4 separate regions of the Homo sapiens genome follow, and all the other regions are linked to region 1. The links come from fine-mapping of genetic effects on gene expression. A gene starts in region 1. Each other region holds a variant in brackets. All regions are shown on one strand. Distances are between the middles of the regions.

Evidence for each region. PIP is the estimated chance that this variant, and not a neighbour inherited with it, causes the effect. A credible set is the group of variants that fine-mapping cannot tell apart.
Region 2: its variant is the best candidate, but not a certain one, in a credible set for the expression of SLC9A9 in whole blood (TOPMed, PIP 0.50).
Region 3: its variant is the best candidate, but not a certain one, in a credible set for the expression of SLC9A9 in monocytes after LPS (Fairfax 2014, PIP 0.54).
Region 4: its variant is the best candidate, but not a certain one, in a credible set for the expression of SLC9A9 in blood mononuclear cells (TOPMed, PIP 0.84).

Annotation. Positions count from the first base shown.
Region 1 is chr3:143,844,922-143,850,610 of GRCh38, forward strand. SLC9A9 (solute carrier family 9 member A9) reads right to left here and starts at 3,547. Exons shown (of 16, transcript NM_173653.4): 1 at 3,227-3,547. The coding sequence starts at 3,401.
Region 2 is chr3:143,379,341-143,385,064 of GRCh38, forward strand. It overlaps SLC9A9 (solute carrier family 9 member A9), which reads right to left. Exons shown (of 16, transcript NM_173653.4): 13 at 2,720-2,774. Among named protein-coding and RNA genes, the nearest start is that of SLC9A9-AS1, 40 kb to the left of the region's middle. The variant TAAACAA/T (reference allele first, on the strand shown) is at 2,779.
Region 3 is chr3:143,949,054-143,954,777 of GRCh38, forward strand. No RefSeq gene overlaps it. Among named protein-coding and RNA genes, the nearest start is that of DIPK2A, 20 kb to the right of the region's middle. The variant CT/C (reference allele first, on the strand shown) is at 2,892.
Region 4 is chr3:143,822,252-143,827,975 of GRCh38, forward strand. The region is part of intron 2 of SLC9A9 (solute carrier family 9 member A9); the gene reads right to left. Among named protein-coding and RNA genes, the nearest start is that of SLC9A9, 23 kb to the right of the region's middle. The variant G/A (reference allele first, on the strand shown) is at 3,006.

The DNA.
Region 1 (5,689 bases):
CTGCTCTTGCAAAAGCTAAGAGTTTAATCCTTTAATGGAAAGGGGGATAGTACAATGTGGGATGCTGAAAATTCACTCTTTTAGACCTCCTGGAAAAGAGAATCTGGCTAATCCTGAAAGCTTAACCATATGAGGATGCATCTAGATCCCACAGACACATCCTTTCTCCAGGAAAATTATTGCAATAATTTACTTATTTTTAAATATCTTAGCATCTCTTATTAAAGAGATGGAGGTTGAATCCCACCTCAACAGCTAACTAATTACACGACTTTTATCTCTCTAAGTCTTCATTTGTTTGTCTGCAAAATGAGAATGCTGGATTTATGATCTTTAAGGCTCCTTCCCCATCTATGATTCCAAGTTCATTTATAGCTGTTGGACAATTAATTCACTTGGCATCTCCTTTCCCCTATCATTAAAAAGTGTTTACTACAGTATCCCATCATGTTCCTCTGGTGTAGTTTCAGACTATTTTATTACATTACTGATAGAAAGTTCCTAATAAGCATTTAAGATATAACATTTAGGACATCCCTGAAGAAGAAATGTGACAAGTCATGAATGCCACCCATATGGAGTACTTTCAGAAAACACAGGGAGAGTTCTTTCAGGTGAACGTGAACCTTAGTAAGACATGCAGATGAGTGAAAGCACATGGACCAGTCATGAGTGGCTATTCAGTTTTGGAAAGTCCCTTCACTTCTCTGGGATTCAGCTTCTGCCTCTCTAAAATAAAGGGGATAGAGAAGATAACCTCTAAAATTCTTTGACATCCTAACAATTATGATTCTATGCCAAGAAAAAGTTAAACATCACTAAAATATGTCTTTTCATTGATCTATATAGTTCAAGATAACTGAAAGATACTCAAAATTTCTAGTAAGAGAATACATATATATGCATATCTCCATAATTTTTATAATCCTTTTACATTGCACTGGTTCAGAATTTGCTTTCAATAACTTTTACTTTAAAAAACTCATGAAAGAAGAATAGGAATCAGAGAACCCAACTTAATTCCACTCATAAACTTTAAGCCTTTATCTGCCTTAAGAACAGCAATTTAGAGAAATGCTACCTCAATAGCAGTGGTCAATGAACTACTATTTTATTATTTCAAGCACAATTTAAAAATATTTCAGAGAGTTTTGCAGGATTAAAGGTAACCTGGAATTTTTCAGATTCAAAAGTAAGAGTTACTGTATGTATTGTGAATGCAAAACATGACTGAATTTTAGTAGGTTATCAAAACTTTTACGAAAACAATATCCCCACCATTGAACTTGGTAAATGAGTCATAGTTCAATCAAATTCAGGGATGTGAAGAAATCTTTCCCTCTAATAAAGGTTGGCAATCTATTAAATCTGGGTAGTTTTGCTAAAGCACATATGTCCCTTTAATATGATATCAAGAATTACATTGTTTCTGGCTTCTCAGATTCTATTCCATATCCTTGCAGATTACTTATTAGTCAAGTCAAGAGAAAAATTCTGTTCATGATGGAGATAGGCAAATGACAGGAACCTAGGGCTTCACATCTGATGGCATCCCCTCCTTTTTGTTTGGCTATTTCTCTCCCACCTGATTGTGATTTTTTTTTTCTCTTAAATGAGAGTTTTCTTGTGCCCGTTAAGACCCTCAATACTGGCTGGGAATGGTGGCTCATGCCCGTAATGCCAGCATTTTGGGAGGCCAAGGTCAGTGGATCTCTTTAGGCCAGGAGTTGGAGACCAGCCTGGGCAACATAGTGAGACCCTGTCTCCACTAAATTTTAAAAAATAAATAAAACAATACAGCAAAAAAAGGTTTTTTTTTTTTTTGCATTTGGGTTATGTTTTTTTTCTTTTTTTAATTATACTTTAAGTTTTAGGGTACATGTGCACAACGTGCAGGTTAGTTACATATGTATACATGTGCCATGTTGGTGTGCTGCACCCATTAACTCGTCATTTAACATCAGGTATATCTCCTAATGCTGTCCCTCCCCACTCCCAAGCAAAAAATTTTTAAAAGACCCTCAGTACCAAGGAATTTAACTCTGTGCTCTGAATGGATCAGCATATCAGCCTCCTGAGCCTGAAACTTCCGCCTTATAGCTCAAGTATCTCACAGTGGGATCCACTTAAGGCTTAGGATTCCTTAGGTTCTGAAATCACAACTATACACTGTTAATATCAGGACACCACAGGATTAGCATATACAATGTGCATTGATCTGTACCCTGAATCTCAGGCTTAGGAAAGGGTTTCAGGATTTCCAAAATGAGGAAACCCCAAATATAAAAGTATGTTATTTGCTATAAATTATAGCAATGCCTTGCCTGTTGCCATTGTGTTCAAACTTCCTATCCATTATCAGGCTGAGATAAGAGCAGTGAAGTAAACTATTTCATCAGTAACACCAGTAAAAACTGGTGTCTTTCATTTTACTTTAAAAGATGAGAGTACAGACAGATAATCTCTGTCAGACTTTATTAAACTTTCTGAAAGGAATGATACGGTAAGTTGCCCAGAAAGAGCAATACTGCAGGTGTTAAATATTTTTCCACACCTTGGCCTCCAATACATAAATAGGAGATACATAACAAATAACACTAGCAATGATCATTATAAATTAGAACATCTGAAATCAGGCTAAGAAGTAAAAAGTACTGCATAAAGAAACTCTCGTTTATTTATAACTTTTTATTATAAGAAAATAAGACACTGTTCGTATAAATAAAAAGGACTTGGACACAATATTCTCTTAAGAGGGGTGGGGTTAGTTTCTGCAAGTTTTCTTCTTGAAATTAGTTGATATAAGAGGAATTACTCCAGGCATTTTGAAGTGATGTTTTTTCTAGAACTTCGTAATGTTCATCGGTGCAGCCAGTGAGAGAAGGCTGCTCTTTGTGACTGCAGAGCCATCACTTCCCAACATCATTACAAAAACAAACAGCTCGCCCTCGACTCCCCACATGACAATGGACCCGCATCTGTCAACAGACTTGCATTATGTGCCGTGTGAGAACATGACTGTGACATTTGCTCTCGTGACATGGCAAATTTCGGCGGCTTGTCTGTAAAGAGATTAGCATTCGTTACGCTGCAGCACCTTTCATCAAACTAATGACATTTCAATCAGCACATTTTCTCCAGTTTCGGTACTTTGCTATCTGAGCACAAGTCTCTAATTACGCTCAAGCAACAAGTTTCACATCAATCTCACAATTTATGCACTCACCATACACCATTGCTCCTCCAGTTTCATGCAAGAAGCGGAATCGATGATTTTTAAATAACCAGATTGTCAAAATGGTAAGGATGAGCAAAAAATTGAAGACAAGCAGCTCCACCGCTCCCTGATGTTGAAACTGATACTCATCCTTTTCTGACATAACCCTTGACTGTCTCTCCATTCCCCAGTCTTCTTGGGATTCCTTAGATAAAAACCTGGATAAAGGCTATTTTATCAAGATTTGCCTAAGACAGTCTGACTGCCTGAGAATTTCAGAAGAAACACTGCCACTTTAGTTGCTACTTCACAAGCATTCTGCCCTGGCTTAGTATTCAGATGGCTTCTAGTTACAACTTCCTGTTTCTCTCTTAAAGCAGCCCTGTCTCTTTTCAAACTCGAGAGTGTGTGGTTTCATCACTGACTCTTAATGTCTTTAAGTGATTCATCTCATGAAAATATCTTTCATACTGGACAAATCTGCAAGCAATGATGCTAAGATCTTGAATCACGGTCTTATTATTCCAAATAAGTCTTCTTAAGCTGCATAAATATGAACTGTAGATTAATAATAAAAAAGGTAGCCTTACACTAGCAACGTTTTCTAAGTTCAAAAAGCCAATTCCTGACTCAACTTCACCTAAATGCAAGATCTTTCCTCTCTAACCAAGACCTGCCAAAGTGATGGGGATTGATAGCACAGTTATCAATCAGCCTCTGTGCTCTAAATGGATCAGCATATTAGCCTCCTGAAAAGATATTACACTGCTTAGCCTGAAACTTCCGCCTCATAGCTCAAGTATCTCACAATGGGATTCACTTAAGGCATAGGGTTTCTTATAGGGTTTCTTATGCTCTCAAATCATGACTGTACATTGGTTAAGCAAACCTAAAGTGATTTCACAGGATTTTTTTTTTTTTTTTTTAGTTGAGAAGCAAGAAAGGATTTAGTATATGACTCTATTTGGCTTTATATAATTGATAGTTGCAGAGCAGCCTTTAAACTCTAAATCAATTGTTTTTCTTTTAACAAGAGAAAACAATGAAAGCAAAAGACAAATAAAATTCCATCCCCATCTCTACAACTGTACTGTTTGGATACGTTGAGACAAAAAAGAAAAAAAACAAAACACATTACTTCGAAAGAGAAACTCACGCAGCCATCCTCAGCAACGCCACATGCATGGATTTCTCTTTGTAGGGTTCCTGGTCTCGGCATCCAGGACCCACAGAAATCTGCAATAGATCACAACCTCCTCTGTCCTATGGCAAAACAATGTTGCTCACTGAGAAATGGTTCTGCCACCAGAAATGAAAGCTCTGTATTCACAGGATTCTGATCATAAGAGTGATGATTCTTCAGATCATCTTCCATGTGGCAGGTTGCTCCTGTCTGATTTCATATTTTTCTACTTTAAAATAGTTCAAGATAATACCATGGGTTCTGCAGCTTTTTTTTCCTTTTCTTTCTTTTTTCTTAGCAAATATTATGACCTGCTTGCTTTTAACACTTGATCCTATAACACATTTGGGTATATCCTGGGGTTAGCTGATTTTTTTTTTCATTTTACCATATCATTGTAATTTGGGAGTATTAATCACTTATGATCCCCATTTTGACACAATTAATGCTCAATTTATACAATGTGATTTCTTATTGAGTAGGCTGAGCCCAAATGCGTCCTGAAACAATTTTTGTCACTAAAAGCTAAAGGTCAAGCATGTAATATTATTGGGAGCTAACTACCTCCTCAACAAACAGTTTCACCATGAGAGCAAGTCTATCAACCCCTTAATACAAAGCTCTGCTGTTTCAGCATCTTTGCTTTGTGCAACTTTGGAAGCTTATTTCCTCTCTGAGTTTAACTTAGCAGAGGGTATTTATGTGTGCTGCAGATGTTCTTCTGACACGCTACCCTTTTTGGCAGGAATATCTGTGATGACTAATATTCATACTGTTTTGAAACCTATCAGCTAATGCTTGCAAGCATTTCATGGAGCTTTGCTAGCAGGTTCTACCTTTATGATTTTGCAACTCCACAGGTTCAGTCGAGTTGTCAGATATACAAGATAACACAAATTCAGAAACTTCCTGTCCTTTTGTTTTTTGTCATTATTGAATTACTTTGGTTTTCTTTTATCACAATTATTCCATCTGAGTAGAATAAACATTCTCTGGTTGATCCGTGACATCCAGTTTCACTCTTTTAACCAATGAAGCAACTTGACAAAAGATTAATGGCCCATAGAATGTTTTGATTGGCTTACACGTCTTTTTAAAAAGTTTTAGGTTTGATGTCAACACATTCAAATCAGTATATTTAACATTTAAAAAATCATATGGCTTTTTGCAAGAAAAACTTGTAAGATCTGGCACACTGGGCCCTTCTTACATGGCCACAATCTGTTGGGGCTGAGTGGTTGCCTGCTGCATTTGCAACCAGCTTGCCACAAGTCCATTCATCCCTCTTC
Region 2 (5,724 bases), 470 kb before region 1:
AAGTACCAAAAAACGGTCCAGGTTCAGTGGCAGCTGTGAGGACACTGCAGCTTGTTACCTCCCATCAGAGCCCACTGTTTCCTGTACTTGATACTGAAGATAAGCATTATCCCAATGTGTGGAGAAAACCTCTTTCTGAAACGTAAGTTCTTTGGTAATCGAACATTATCATGAATAAGAACACTTACAGTATACTTCTTAAAAATGAAATCATTTGTAGGTAGCAGCAGTTCAGGAGGCGCCATGTCAATGATAACGCTACTTACTTAACATTTAGATAGTGCTGTATGTGTCCTCTACAGGAGGCCCCAAGTGAGAAATGTCTTTAAAAACATAGTGATGTTTCGTGTCACTTGAGGAGAGGGTATTATTTTTCCTTCTAATGATGTGAATTTAATATATTACCAATTATTATTTCTTTATTTCCCCTTTGGCCATCAGAAAGCTTACTTATGGTTTGACTACAGTAAGTCTATAAGGCCTTATGATCTGCTTATCCATGATTCTTTATACCCCTCTGGTTTTGACTATCTGCTCTTATTAATATTTTTTACTGATTTTTAAAATTTCTATAAAAATATGTTACTATTATATGTGGTGGTTTAAGCTGCCTCCAATCATCCATAAAATGAGATGGGTTTAGCTTAATTAAGTTGGGTCATTTTCATAAACCCAATTTCCCTTGATTATCATAAATAACATCCTGGAGAGGCAGACGTTATTATCATTTACATTTTATAGAGAGGGAAACTGAGACCCAAAGGTGTAAACACCTTGCCCAAGACCCAAATATCACAGAATTTTCACTGTTCTATGTTATGCTATCCTATTTCTCTAATAAAAAAGTAACTTTAATTGCTATAATATCTTCAGGTAAGGGTTATTACTGATTTAACAATGATGAACTTTGTTTTAAAGTGTCACATGAATGAGATAAAATAAAATACATTTAAATTGGAAAGGATTTAGGCTAGTAGGAAATTTTTACCAATAACAGTATATGTGATTGTAGAATATTAGGCAGTTAGAAGAAGACAGAGAATTTTATTTGATGAATTTTATAATTGTGTCTTTTCTTCTTTTAAAGAAAAAGGTATACAAGAAGGACAAAATTTAGATAAAAGTTTTCTTGAAGGTAGGAGAATGAATTATTTGACCTACACAAGATGAAAATGCTTTTTAAAAATCAGCCACCACCAGACATTACTGACTATTCATTATAGCCCACCAGTGTAAGGAGATGGGCTTTGATCTCCTTTCTAAGGTCACCAGGCTGGCTCTAATCCCAGTGCTTTGGGCACCCCTGCTGTGCTCCATCCTGCAGTTAGGTGTGTTTCCTGGACAATGGAGTCTGTGGAAACTGCCTGGCCTTGGAACACATGTGACAAAAAACCTCAAAGTACATGAGAGCCAGGATCATCACCAACTTAATTTCCCAGCCTTTTCCACAGAGCACAGGCTCCTTTCTTTTTCACATCTGTGTGTGCCAGGAAAGCAGTGTCTTGCCCAGGAAAACTCACCAGTTGTGCCTCATTGATGGTGTTATTGGAAAAACAAGCATGAAATAAAAGAGAGGGATTCCCTTAGAATACAAATACGCTCATAACACAATTCATTAAGCAATATCACTTATTTATGATATTCTCCTATTATATCTATGTCTGCCTACTTCTAATTTCAGCAAAAAGGTGTAAAATTTCCCTACATTTTCTTATTTGTGACAAGTACTGAGTTTAAAATGGTAGTGCAAAACTGACATTGATAGATTCTACTTTGACGTTAGGTTCAAATTCAGTTTGGAGAATGCATTTCCCCTACTTGAGGTGATATGGTTTGGCTGTGTTCCACTCAAACCTCATCTTGAATTCTAACTCCCACAATTCCCATGTGTTGTGGGAGGAACCTGGTGGGAGGTAGTTGAATTATGGGGATGGGTCTTTCCCATGCTGTTCTTGTGACAGTGAATGGGTCTCACTAGATCTGATGGTTTTAAAAACAGTTTCCCTGCACAAGCTCTCTCTTTGACTGCCACCATCCATGTAAGATGTGACTTGCTCTTCCTTGCCTCCTGCCCTGATTGTGACGCCTCCCCAGCCATGTGGAACTGTAAGTCCATTAAACCTTTTTCCTGTATAAATTACCCAGTCTTGGGTATGTCTTCATCAGCATTATGAAAATGAACTAATATATGAGGGAAGAACTCATTGTTCTAAACAATTACCCCAAAGGATTTTCAGGTCTCTGTAGATAATTGTTGCTCAATTAAGTCAAAGGATGGATCACCTAGACAGTTTTTTGGGCCTTAGACCTGATAAATGAGAAGCTATCCAGGAGAAATAAGTCAATTTGTTGTTTGTGCAACATGCATTGGACATACTTTGTGTAAATTTCACTGAGTTGGCTAGCTAGCAAGTTGCTGGGTAGGGATTTGAACTATGAAGTGCCTCATTCCAAGAGCCATCATATACTTTGTAAAGTTTCCAGACTTCCTGCTGCCATAGAGAGGCTTGCAAGTACATGCTAGTTCTAAGCATTCATATGCTAGAAGTTATCAACACCCTGAATTCCCTTGTATTTTATTGTAATCTCATTTGTTTTATCAGCAGAGGAAGCTCCGTTTAGAAATAGCTCCTTGGTCACATGCTGGACAAACATGGAACAGCCTATGGAACAGAACAATCATATCTCTATATAATGTGCATTGGTTTCTTTGACTTGCCTGGTGTTGTGAGGAGGGGTCCTCCTTCAGATTTTCATCCAGGTCCACGCCAACTCTGT[TAAACAA/T]AACCAAAAACTGGTCAATCCCCTGCTGCAGAAGGAATGAGACAGTCTTGTGTGTCAGATGACCTAACCCAAACACAATGTGAATCTGAGAAAAGATTTGGCAGAAAACTATCCTACGTCTTCTTGAATCAAAAGAACCTCAGATTTATACCAAAATAAGAACTTGAACAGCTGGGCCTCAGGATGCTGGAGAAATTAAGCATCAACAGCAGCTCTTCACTACTGTCGTTCCTGGCAAGGTAAGCATCCCTGAGAACCTAGGACAGCAGCCATCAGGAAAAAGACCTCCATAGCCCCAAAAACACACATTCTGGAAAGAAGGTGACCTGGTACCTCTGCAACCAACCATTGACCAAAATGCCCTGGGAATTTGTGTGCCCAGCCTGGAGCAGGGTTTCTTGAGGCAGAGTAAACAGAACGTTTTTCTAGAGACTCCCCATAGGGAGGATTCAGACTGTGGAGCCTGAGGCATATACAATTTGGGGGCTCTCTCTTTAAGGAAAATAATACAAAAATATAAACACAAAATTGGGAGTGAAAGTGACTCTTCAGAAGGATAAGTTACAAAAAAAATTACATATGTTTTTAAAGCTGGCAAATGCAATAGACCTCTCAAAGCCCAGGAAAAATACAAAACATTTTAATTAATTAGCTGTCTGACACACTGCTAAAATAACTTTCTTCCGGAATTTTTGCCTACTGACTTTGCTACTCTCTTTATATGATAATGATTTTGTATTAGAGAATAAAAAGATAAGGCAGTCTTTCCTCTAGCAAGACTGATCAAAATTGTTGATAGTTGGAAGGCATTAAAGCACTCTTTCTCACACACAGACACGCTTGCTATGTGCCTCACTGCTACAGGGTAATGCCCTGCAAATGCAAGATTTCTGATAATTTTTATTTTATGCAATTCCCATAAGCAATGCACAGTGTACTTATCAGTGTACATGCTTTGCCATTGAATATATTCCTGAATTTCCATTTTGATGAGGCATCAATGAAAACTGCATTTTATACATCTCATGATTAGAAGAATTTTCAACAGAGTCCCCAGTCTGGCTCAGTCCATCTCAAACCTTGTTTTTCCTCCACTACCCACAGACTTCTGATGCCAGGCACCATAGGACACGTTTATATTTAATTCAGCCTTGTGCATTATTCCTGTAAGCTGTTCCTACTCCGGGGTGGACAGCAGTGGCTTAGCCATGCACAGAAGTGACTGCAGCCCACACAAATGTATCGCATTCAATCTAAACTAAATGTACTCTCAATTCAGCTTCCCCTTAGTTGGATCCCCCAAATGCCCACAGCTATTCCAATACCATTTGATCAGAGAAGTATGAGGAAAAGGAAGCTGTAGTGGAAAGAAACAGCAGTTGAACCCAACTGTGTTGAAACTATGTATTTTTTTGCAAATCTTACAAAAATATAAGACCATGGGAACACAGTACTGGGGATCTTCCCAGGGCCTTGGAGGGCCAGACCAAGTGAGGGGCCCTGAAACTCAAACTTCCTCTGTTTCCAGAGAGAGTCCCTCTGCCTGCTTCAGCTGGAGTGGGGCAGGGTGGGAGTGCTGGGGAGAGGTCTGGCCCAAGCTCCACCAGAGCCCTTCCTGTGAATCCACATTTGCTAGACATTTAGGGACTTTTCTTCAACTCTTGTTCCTCATAAACACCTCCCTAATTATCTCCCAGTCCTGCTGTTGGGGTGGGGGAAGCAAGGCCATGTGAGAAGCCTCCAGTCAAGCAAATGTGTAACTCCTTATAAGGAGAACAGTAACGGTAAAGTCCCGCCTGTTTAAAATACCTCTGATTCTTCACAGGTAAGTGTCTTCTGGACATGAATAGCCCCATCTCTCTAACCAAGGGAACAAATTAATAGCTATTTATTTTGTGCTGAATTTTTTGCCTTTAGGTTACTGGGAAGAGCCTCTGGAGGGGAGGAACCTTTGATTCTTGGGGTAGAAAAACTAGCTATTTGATTGATGTCATCTGAGGAGGAACAAGAAGGGGAAGGGGAGGAGAGGGAAAGGATGTCAGTGAGGAGAAAGGAGAGGGGAAGGGATGAGGGGAGAACAGCAGTGTAGAGAGGGGTGGGGGTGGCCTGCCTCCGACAGTGGGACCCAGGTGTGGAGGCTCCCAGCCCCCTTCTCTTATGGGGCCAGGCCACTCTCACAGCTGTGTGGTGGATCAGAGCCCTCCAGCAGGTGCTGGCTGTTCCCTAGAGGCTTCATTGCTGGATAAACCCAGATCTCAGGGATGAAGCTGCTGGGCACCCAGGTTGGCCGTGAACTGAACTGAGGATCATGGGGCTCCCACCACTGTATCTGCTTAGGGCCTTTTTCTAGGTCTCTGTCTAGAAACCTGGAGAGGACAGAAATAGAATTTTATAAGAAGCCCAACATTTAACGTTTGAGGCAGCACTGAGGCCTTTCACTAAAGTGGAATCTTTTCTTTGCAGCAGCAATCAGAGCAGACATTCCTGCACAACTAGATGGGGCAGAGGAAGTGATGAAATTCTTTCATTTGATGGGGACTCAGTGGAAGGCATCTCAGAGACCTGACTGGGAAGAAGACTGTACCTCCTCCCACATCTCATCTCAGGGCAGGTCCAGAGCAGGACAAACGCCACAAGTGGCTTGAGGAAAGAGAACCTCCATGAAAGGTGTTTCCCTCCTGGGGAAGCCAGGGTGAACACGGTCCTTGCCCACACAGGGCATACGATTCGGGAGGTTCAATGAGGATAATATAAAAAATGTACCACAGCTTAAGGGCCATGAAGGAAACAATGCCTTCTTTCACTTGTGATATTAGCTGCTTTTGAGGAAAATCTGGCTAATATATGTTTCTTGGCTACCTGCCTCCTTAAATAGTGTGTAAGGGGGATATTCTAATCTTAACTGGAGGACTCAGCATTGCAACTGGTCCCATAAAGTCT
Region 3 (5,724 bases), 100 kb after region 1:
TTATTACCCAAAATAAAGTGTGTCTGGTATCTTCAGTATTTTATACTGGGCCAAACAAATGCAGCTTATGACTGGCTGCTTGCTTTTGTAAATGAAGTTTTATTGGCATCCAGCCACACCTGTCTACTCTACAAAGGTAAAGTTGAGTAGTTTCAAGAATGACCATGTGTCCTACAAAGTCTAAAATATTTGCTGTCTTGTCTTTGACAGAAAATGATTGCTAACCCCTGGTTTAGACAGACTTTCGTTTTTGTTCCATTCTAATTTACCAGAATGTTTTCAAAGTGACTTAAAGTTTATATTTTTTGAACTGGATTTGCTCTGTGAAACAATTCAGATTATTTTACACTAAAAATCAAATTATTGTTAAGTTTGTAATAGTGAGGCTAGCACATGCAGCTGAAAAGTGGCAAAATAAAGTGTTTGTTTTGAAAATATCTTTTTTTAAGACCACAAACATCTGGATGTTTCCCCAGACATATAGAACACCACCTGATTAAATCATTTATATTTAGGCAGGTGCATTTTGTAAACACTTTACCTAAAAACAAAGCCTTAGAGGTAGAAATAATAATTTCAAGTATCATCTTTGTAAAAAATATTTCTAATTTAAAATGTAAGCTTTCTTGCACTTTTAAAGTGCACCAAGAGGTACAAACAAGTATACAACTCTGTCAGAGATTTTGGAAAATTTAAAGAATTTGATATTATCTTTTTTCTTTTCTTTCTTTGGTGACGCAATCTTTGCATTTTAATTATGTGAATGATAGAAGAAATGGTTGTGATGTTTTACACAAGGTCTCAAAACTCAGAATGAACAATGTATTTTTCATTTATTATATAGTAGAGTATCAACCAAGTGGTATGAGAAGTGTTCCGAGTACTTAAGTTGAAATAAAACATATTTCTTGGTCCTTCAATGTCAGTTCTCTTAATTTCAGAATGGTGTTTGGTTCAACATATCATTAGAGCCAAATAGATTATCTTGAAAGGATCTGGGACTTTGGACCCAACTGGAGGCTTGACTGTTGGTCCAACTACTTTCTAGCTTGTCTGAACCTAAATTTCCACCGAATAAAATGGAGATAATATTGGATAATACTTTTCTTGGAGACGTGGTATGTATAGTGCCTGAAAAAGAATAATGAAATAATAGCTCTTATTTATCGACTATGTGCCAGCCACTAAGCTCAGTGTCATATACTTTACTGTTATTATATCTAATTCACAGATGAGTTAGTTGAAGTGTTAACTTCCAGTTTACAAAGAGCAGCCACTGATCATCTAGTGCCTACTACATGCTGGGGTAAGGGAAATTGTACATATTTTCTCATATAGTGTGCAGTGCCAGGAGGTAGATGTTATTATCAACTCCAGTTTACAAATGAGAAAATTAAGATTTAAAGAGGTTAAATAGTCTGTCAACGTTACACAGCTAGTAAGAGGCAGAACTAGGATCAGAATCCAGGAAGACAAATTCCCAGGGCCTTTGCCTTTAACTTTTACTATACTGCCTCAGCAAGGCGTAGGTATTATTATTATTGCTATTGCCATAGGTATTACTTAAATAAAAATCAATGCACTAAAAACCACAGTGAAGTATATGTCTGAAATTTGACAAACATATTTAGGGAACCAAATAATTTTAAGTATAATCTCTAGAGTTGAGAGCATCCAACTTGGTACTGAATTGCAAAGTAGATATGAAGACAACTTCTAAAAGTCAAAATATAACTAAACACTCCAGCCCTGGATCCACTTCCCTAAGCCTTCAAGGAACAAAATTTGAAATTTTTTATTCCAAAGTTATGTTTGCATTCACATCAAACATTTTAAATAGTATGTGCTGCTGGGAACTGACAAACCCCAAAGCTATTATGGGCCTTGTCAATTTTCAAGCGCTGAAAAAGTAAGGTGTAGTAATGTTTATGAAAGAACATGATGCCAGATGTACTTAATGTCAGAAAAATCAGTTTGAGTTCCTGTGTTCTTGTAACCTCACTGCAGATTGTCAGCCCAAGTGATATGCAGAAAATATATAGCTTGCCTGACTGCCTTTACCCAAAGAGTCGATATTATGGAATAGATGGATTAGAATTTCTATTTGAATAGACATTTTTTTCTCTTCTGATTTTTTGTTCATTTGCATGGCTGCTAAAATTTCTGCAAACAAATTACATATAACAGGGAAACTGCTGAAGAACTTTGGTTTTTATTACATTTGAACAAGTTTTGAAGAAAATGTCTTCTAACAATAAAATACAGTGTTCAAATAAAATCAAATACTTGTTGACCCATTCTAAGCAAGCCACTTTGCAAATTCTGCAGGAAGCATAAGACTAGTCCATACCTTGCAACCTGGAAAGAAAATGCTAGAAGTGCAAATAGTTAAGGACTAGTCCTTCTTTTTTGTTTTGCATTCTCATGATTCCATTCTTTCTATACTCATGATGTACCATAATTGACCCTTTGTGTCACCCACTCATTGGAGAATTTCTGAACATGTGAGCATGCCACCTGGTGGTGGATAGATGTTTACCAGGCATTTGCAAAGGATTGATTGAAACTTTTTGGGTCCTTTAAGAAAAAAGCAGTATCCTGAGGCTTCTGATTGCATTATTAATTATTCAACTGATTTGTTCCAATAGTTTTGTTTTTCCAGCATTACAGTCAGATCTTATTCATTATTACCATGAGAATGTTTTAGTAGGTCAGTATAATGAGCCTAAAATAACTAAGGTAAAGTTCTATAGTCTGAGGGATTCCTGTCTTTCTCACATTGCCTAGGAGCGTAATGAGAATTGAAGATATAGTATCAATAATGCAGTTCCTGATTCAGAGGTCATGTTGAGAGTGGATTTCATAGGTCTTAAAAACACTGAATTTTCCTT[CT/C]TTTTTTTTTGCCATTCTAGGGTGTTAGATTTGACAATTCAAAACCAGATTCTGAAGAATTTAAATTCCAAATTAATCTGGAAAATTTATAATGCACAAAGAACTCATTTTTATGATTACTACATTAAAAGCTTTAAAAGGCAAAATTAAATTTATTCCTAAGCATAGACTGTTTTTATAGTAGCTTTGTATTGTTGAAGATAGAAGAGAATAAATTAATACTTCTACAATACACCTCAGTATATTGTTTAAAATTTATAATAACATGCTGATTTTTGGAAGAGAACCTTAACTGTTCCCTCATCAGTATGTGGAGTTGCCAGATAAAATACAGAATGTCCAGTCAAATTTTAATCACAGACAAATAGTATCGTTTTTAGTATAAGTATGTCCCATGAAATATTTGAGATATATGTTACTAAAGAGAGTTCCTTGTTTATTTAAATTCCAGATTTACCTGGGAGTCTTGTATTTTTATTTGCTAAATCTGGCAACCGCATCAGTAGGCTAATGTCTTTGAATGGTTTTTCAGATAGTGCTCATGAGGTCAACTGGCCATCAACACTTTTTACATTCATTCACTCACTCATTAATTCATTTAACAGGTATTTGAATACCTTCCATACTGGTGTTAGCATCAGGAATAGTTTTCCACAAACCCCATACCTCATAGAACACATCCGTGATTCTCAATCTTGTAATCTCAGTATTCTCAATCTATTGTAATCAGTTGGGAAACTTAAAAAAAAAAAAGTTAATGATGTCCCAATTGGATCCCTCAAATATTCTGAATTACTTGTTCTCGAGTTTTGCCTACTCATCAGAATTTTATAACCTCCCCAGGTGATTATAATGTGTGGCCCCAGTTGCAAGCTGCTTGCTGTAGATGAAGACAAATTAGGTTTTCTTAGGCCTTATCTTTGCAATGCCTGCACCTGCCACCAGATGTGCCAATTAATGCTTGTTTCACTGAGCAGATCGACTCTTTTCAGAGAAGCAAATTGGCTTACAATTTTAGCTGATTGAAATTTTTCCAAAGCAAAATAACTCTTTATTAAGCTAGCATTACACATTTTAAAATTAAACCATTTTGCCTCAATTTTAGAACTACGAATTATTTAAATAAATGCATTCATCCATTTACTCAAAAATGTTTATTTCTATCTAAGCACTGGGCACTGTACCAGGCACTGGGGATGGAGCCATGAAAAAGACAAAGCTCCTATTCCTGTAGGAGGGACAATTCATATGAAAACAGAAAATAAATACTTGCAAGGAAAAAAATGAATAAAGGGGTAAAAAGGAATTGAGTGGTGGAGAGCATTGCAATTTAAATAAAGCAATCAGAAAAAAGCTTCATAGAGGACATTTGACAGATACATGAATGAGGTGAAGAACTGAATCATGCAAACATCTCTGGAGACAGGTGAAAGAAATAGCAAGTGGAAAAGCCTTGAGACTTGAGCCAGCTTGGTGTGTTCCTAGTAAGAGTTGGAAGGACAGCATGACTAGGCCAGTGTTAAGGGGACAGCAGTATAAGATGAAGCCAGAATGGTATGTAGGCCCTTAGGCCAAGGTAAGGACATTGAGCCATATTCCAGATGTGATGGGAAACCATTCAAAAGTTTTGGGCTGTGGAGTAACAGGTATGTTCCAATTTACATAATAAATATATCACTCTGGCTTCCATCTAGAGACTGAGTGATAGGTAATGGTTGGGTAAAAGCAGACAGGCATTTAGGAGACAACTTCAATAGGTCAGGTGAGAGATAACAGTAACTTGGATTAGGGTGGTAGCAGTCAAGGTTTCAACAAGTGTCTGGACTTAGAATAGACTTTGAAAGTGTCCAGCAGTACTTGCTGATAGGCTGAATGTGGATGTGAAGGAAAGAAGAAATAAGAATGTTTTAATTTTATCCATCTTCCAAGATGGAGATAACAAGCTGACACATAAGTTCTAGTAGGGCTATGTTAAATTAAAGGTGCCTAATGATCATCCTAGTGGGCGGGACCATTTGGCAGATATGTACATCTGGAGTTCACAGAAGCAGTCAGGGCTGCAGAAATAAATTTAGATCATCAGCTATACTGAGAGGAGTGGTTTTTTTCCCCTCAAGTTTAACATATTGGACTGTTTTTAAACAAAGTGGGGCAGTCATTTCCTTTCACAGTGAATTACCTTCTCTAGGAGTTATACCTGTGACCTCTAAATTATACTAGCACTTGATAATGTAATTACAATTATTTACTACAGAAAATGTACCTAAGAGAAAACTTGCCCCCTACAAATTTTAAAATGTTCTTGGCAGGCACGTGTAAAGCAACCATGAAAAGTATATTGGATGATGCATGAGGTCTTTTTAGACTATAATGAGAAAGGTCTTCTTATGACAAAGAAATGATCATTTTCAGCTATAACTGTGTTTTCTCTTAAAATGGTTTTATCCTGTATTTTAATTTTCAAACAATCCAAAAGTATTTTTAGTAAGTAAATTATGAATAAAAATTTATTTTTATGCTATTGTATTTTAAAAATTAGTTAATAAAGTTAGCATTATTTTTGATAGCTTCCACGGAGAATTTTAATACATCAAGTACATTCTATTATAATAGTCACAAGAGGATATTCAGTTTGTAAAATTGTTGAAAAGCTGAGTTATAGTAGAAAAAACCAGAACTTTAATTTTCAAATTTGCCACTAAACTGTTGTGTGATTGAAGACAAATTGTTTAACTGCCCTGAACCTCAACTTCCTTATTTGTAAAAAAGGCAATCTATCTCAAAAGTCTCCTGTGTTGATAAGCGAAATACTCTTGTAAAGGTATTTTATAA
Region 4 (5,724 bases), 23 kb before region 1:
CTCAAGGGCACTTGATGAACTTCCTGCTCACTACACACTACCTGAGGGTCCACCACTTTTCTGGGAACCCATCATATGACAGTTAGAAAGAAAGATGAAGACCACTCGAATTTGCAGGACATTCTTGCTCCACACACCCCAACCTGGGGCAGAACTCGATAAATCAGAGCCCACTTAGTCCTGTGATCAGAAATGGATGTGAAGGGAGCAGCTGGGAGACTCCATAACTCCAGGCAAGCTTAAAAGGCAACAAGAGACAACCAGCTGAATGTGCAGCTTCGTTAGGTCCCCTCCCCTCCTGTGCCCAGCTGTCTGTGGAGCCTACCTCAGGCTGTATCTGTTACTAAACAGGAGCTTCCTAATGACCTCAGGAGAGAACAGGGAAATGCAGCTGGGTGGAACTTTAAATAACTACTCGCTGGAGACCAGCAATGATAAATGTGCACTCTTGCCACAGTTTAATATTTTAGAAGGAACAAAGCAATGGGGAAAAGAATTGAAAGATCCATTGTAAATATTATTTACTCAGACTTAAAGTACAATGGGAAATCTCTTTTTTCCCTTCCACTCTCTCTCTGTTTTCTGTTCTTTGCTCAGGCTCCTTTTCTCTCCCTCTCTCCCTGCCTTGAATCTCTCTCTGCCTCCTTCCATCCCTACGCAATTATTTGGAGAGCAGACTTTTTAGCAGTTCAGTCCTCTGAGTAGTAAACAACCATCACAGAGCACACATAATTCACCCTGAGGAGAAATCTGAGGTTAGATGCTTGGTTACAAAATAGCCAGCAATTAAGACAGGACAGAGTAGCAGTAAAAAGGAGCTACTGACAAGCAGAGAATGATAGATACCTGGTTACATCATCCATTCATTTATCAAGATCCACAGAGAATTCACCATTTGCCAGGAATCATGGAATGAATGTGACCACTAAACAGACCTAGTCTCTGCCCTCCTGGAGCCCACAGTCTAGTGAGACTGTAGACAAGTGACATTGAGAAGACAGACATGAATCAAAACATTATAGAAGTAAATATTAACTTACAACTCAGCTAAAATGCAGTGGGGGAATGTCAGGTGGAGCTATGAGACTGCAGACCTATGAGACAAAAGACCTGGATACTGTAGTAGAGTAGCATGGGGACATTCGGGGTGAAGATGAGTGTTCTCCCAGAGGTAATCAGCCCCTAAGAACATCCTCATGTCAGGCCAACAGCCCATGCACATACTGGTGCCGCAAGACTCAGAATACAGAATTTAAGATTTCAGAAAAGACACAAAGGATAAATGCTTGAGGGGATGGCTTTCCCATTCTCCATTATGTGATTATTTCACATTGCATGCCTGTATCAAAACATTTTATGTAACCCATAAATATATATACCTACTATGTACCCACAAAAATAAAAAATAAAAAAATTAAAAAATAAATTAAAAATTAAACATTAAAAAAGATTTCAGAAAAGAGTGGAATTTTTAAAGGTAGATGTTATCAAAAATATTTAATAGTTACAATAAAAATAAAATTTTAATAAAATATAAGATATTATATTGTTCTCTAAGATGAGGTGTCCATATCTTAGAGAATGGAAAGGATGATTTTGGTGTGCAAAGGACATACTGGAACTTCTGTTTATATTTCATTTTATCTCATCCTTTTAAAAAATTCTAGTTTGATATCTGCTTTATAATGTATAGAGTATATTGATACAGTAGTCCTTACATCCAACTTGTAAATAAAAAGGTATATGGATATATTCTCAAACGCATTTCACTGGTGGGTGCATAATCAAAAGTTTGGAAGTTAGTATTTGCGTGGTGCATTCTGAAGGCAAGCTTTCAAAAGTGGCCATGGTACCTCATGGCACTTCCTGCCCCTAGGAGCAGAGTGTCCCTGTGTTTCTAGATTTCCAATCCCTATTCCAAGATGATCTCTCTCTTCTTCTCTGCCCTTCTCTACTTTAAAAAATATTTTTTTCTAAAACTTTTTATATATACAAAATGATCTTAGAATATTCATGAATAAAATGGCAAAGAGCTGGCAGGAAAAAAAAACCAAAAAACCAAAAACAAAAAACTGCCTTCCAGAAAGCAGCAGGCACTTACTGTTACTTAGTTTTGTCCTCTGCTTTGAAATTCCCTTCTTCCAGATTTCTGCATGGCATAGTCCCCACTTCATTAGGACTCAGCTCCGATTCACCTCAGTGAGGCCTTCTCTGCAGGACATATCTAAAGACCCTTCACTCCGAACCTTCTAATTTTGCTAACTTCTCTTCATAGCACTTGCCTCCACTTGGCTCTGGATTACAAATGCTTGTGCTGAACTTCCTTTGTCTATCCCCCTCCAGGAAGTTAAACCCCATGAGCACAAGGACTTCGTTTTGTTCACTACCATACTTGCAGCACCTAAAACCAATGCCTGGCAAGTGGCAAGTGCTCAATAAATAAATATTTTTTGAATGACTGAAGGAATGAAGAAAATCTGTGTTGTTCAATGATGAAATCAAAACCAAATGGAATATTTAGAGTCTTTAAATACATTTCTGAGGTCATCTCACAGGCCAACTTTTTGCCAAAAATGTTGAATGAAAGTGGAAGAAAACAGCTAAAGCAAACAAATTTTTAGTTTCTTTAGTAACAGCAGATCTCTTAAATAAGGTTTAGGATGAAAGGAGCTGCATCCGCCCAAACAGCCTCATCCCATTTACTGCCAAACTTGACATTCTCTGGAACCATCTCACGTGGTAGGAGCCAAGAATTGTCATGATAGAGAAACACAAATCATGGAGCCCTATTCTCTGTTGAAAGGAAGAATAATTGATAGTATCCTACAAATGCTTCTCCACACCCCCAATGCTGATTTATCATCATGAAGCTTGCTTTCTCTCAGTGTGCCTAGAAAAGTTTCTTAAAAAATTTCTTTTCAGTCCTTTGTTTATCCTCCCCAAGAGTGTCCTAGTGTTAACTGTACATATTTATCTCATGGCCCAATGACTCTCTCTGCTCAAGC[G/A]ATTCCTGTTACAGGAAGAGGTTTGCCCCTGGCCTTATTGAAGCTCAAGTAAAGGAAAAGACTAGAAATGCAAATGTAGTTTACAAATAAATATATGAGAATTAAAACTCTGAATGATGAAAAATCAAAATCACCATTAGGAAAAGTTGGATGGTGAGAAAAAAAAAAGGACTTTGATTTATTTATTTAAAGCTACAAAAAATTAATTATTTAATTCTTCAAAAACAAAATTACTTTTAAAAGTCTTATGGTTAGTTGTTTCTATAAGGGCTTCCTTAAAGTAGCTCTAAAATATGTAGTATTATCAACACAATTGAAACGAGCTCTGATGACCTATTTGCAGCTTGGCAATTCTCTTTATTGAAAGAATAGAAAGGACAGATTGCTCAGCAGTGTAACTCACTTCAAAGTAACTTCCTTTACCAAGCGATAGTGTCTACTTGTCACACAGGAAGTGAAGACTTGGCAAAATTTTCGCTGGGTAGTTTCCTTTGACTTTTTGCATTACAGTCAACTTATCTATGAGTGATAGGAAGTGTAAATTTAACTGTACTGACAACTTTTTGATAATCTACTGTATCTGCAAGACTTTTCCAGCCAAATGGCCCACTGACCCTTCCAACTGAGTATTATAAACACCTAACATGCTAAATCAATGATGAATAAATTAATGATGAAATAGATTGATTCATTCATTCATCAGTTTAAAACCACATTTGTGACCAGGCACTGTGGCTCACACCTATAATCCCAGCATTTTGGGAGGCTGAGGCAGGCAGATCACTGGAGGTCAGGAGTTTGAGACCAGCCTGGACAACATGGTGAAACTCCATCTCTACTAAGAATACGAAAAGTAGCTGGGCGTGGTGGCACATACCTGTAGTCCCAGCTACTTGGGAGGCTAGGGCATGAGAATTGCTTGAACCTAGGAGGCAGAGGTTGCAGTGAGCTGGAATCGTACCACTGTACTGCAGCCTGGGCGACAGAGCAAGACTCTGTCTTGAAAAAAAAAAAAAACCACCATATTTGTGATTTGTGATTTTCTCCTACAAATCAACTCCTTCTTCTAACTTTTAACTTCCACATTTTTGCCTCACCACCCTTCTGTGAACCCACATGACCAGGGTAGCAGAGGAAGCTGTTTTTCCTCTTCTTCTGACTAGTTGGGCCAAGCCCTTCACAGCCTTCCTTCCTCGTTTTTCTTGCATCTACCTCTTGGTTACCATCCAAGTCTAGGCTTCATCTGTCTCTTTGCTTTCACTCTCTACCCTGTACACAGCAGGCACACTATCCTTTTGCTTTTGTCAACATTACACTGTTCCTCTGACTACAAATAGAGAGGGCATTACTCAGCCTGGCATTCAGGGGCTTCCAAATCAAGGTCTGCCTTCATTTTCAGCTCTAGGTTTCACTGGTCTTCCACACTTCAACAAATTGGAAATGCTTTTTCTTTCCTGGAATATTGTCTACCCCTTTTCCCACATCCATATCATGCTTTTCCTTCTGCATGGAATTCCTCCCCTCTGTCCCCCCAACACCACACATACCCCTATCATCAGAGTCAATCAACTGCCCTTCTTAGAAATCTTTCCTATTACCCTTAATAAGAGACCATACTGTCCTGTTCTGGACGCCTGTGGTTCTTGTCCCACTTTTTTGATACGTGCCTTTAGTGTTACTCATTCATTTATTCATATGCTATGTTTTTCTCTGATTTACTACTAAACTCCTTGGGACCACATCTTGTTTCAGAATTGAAATTGATAGGACTCAGTTCATTTGTGTTGAAAGAATAAATGAATGAAAGTATGAAACAGAAAGTTATTTTATCATCTTCTCTTCAAAACAGGTTTTGAACTTCCTATTGACATAAAATGCAGAAATATTTGGTAGACATTTTGGTATTCCTAAATATTACATAACAAACTTATGTTTGCAAAGCTATCATGTAATAGGATGTAGGCCCTAAAGGGTTACAACCAGTTGCAGGTATCTTGTATACACAGAACAATTTGACAAATGGTGGTGGAAACATTGGCTGAACAGATACAGAGCAACATGGTCTTGTTTTATCCTCTTAGAAGGTTGTTTTGAGTTCATCGTCTGCTCATAACATATAGAAGAATACTGTTTTCACCAATCTTTAAGTGAAAATATTTTTTTTCTTTTCTACACTTTTATCTGTGTTGAGCATGAACAAAACAAGTTTGGCATATGGTGTTTCCTGAAATTTTTATATGTTTAAACATGGCATAAAATCACAGTACATTGCTGTTTATATAAATGCCAACAGCTCTCATATTTTCCAGTTTTATACCTTCTTATTGGAAGGAACTCACAGAGCCATCAAACCAGTTCTGTCTCTAAGCACGTCAATGCCTAACCATCCCAGAAATACACGTGCTCTTATAAAATCTTCTAAGAGGCCATTACATAGCACAAGAATTCATTCCAGCCTCTCCAAATCCTGAAGTCAGAAATTTCATCCAAGACACTAAACTATATTTTTCTAAGAGTAAAACCCATTTTCAAATCATGTAACTTTTAGAAACAAAGGCAAAATACTCCCTTTAAAATATATCACAAAGGAAAAGGACCCAGTGGGGCCACACTAATGGCTTCTGTGACTCTGCTGAGCCGGACTTCTTCCTCAACTCTGACCTCCCTGCACTCTTTCTAGCACTGGTCATCTCCTTCTGCCTGTCTAACTGTGAAACGC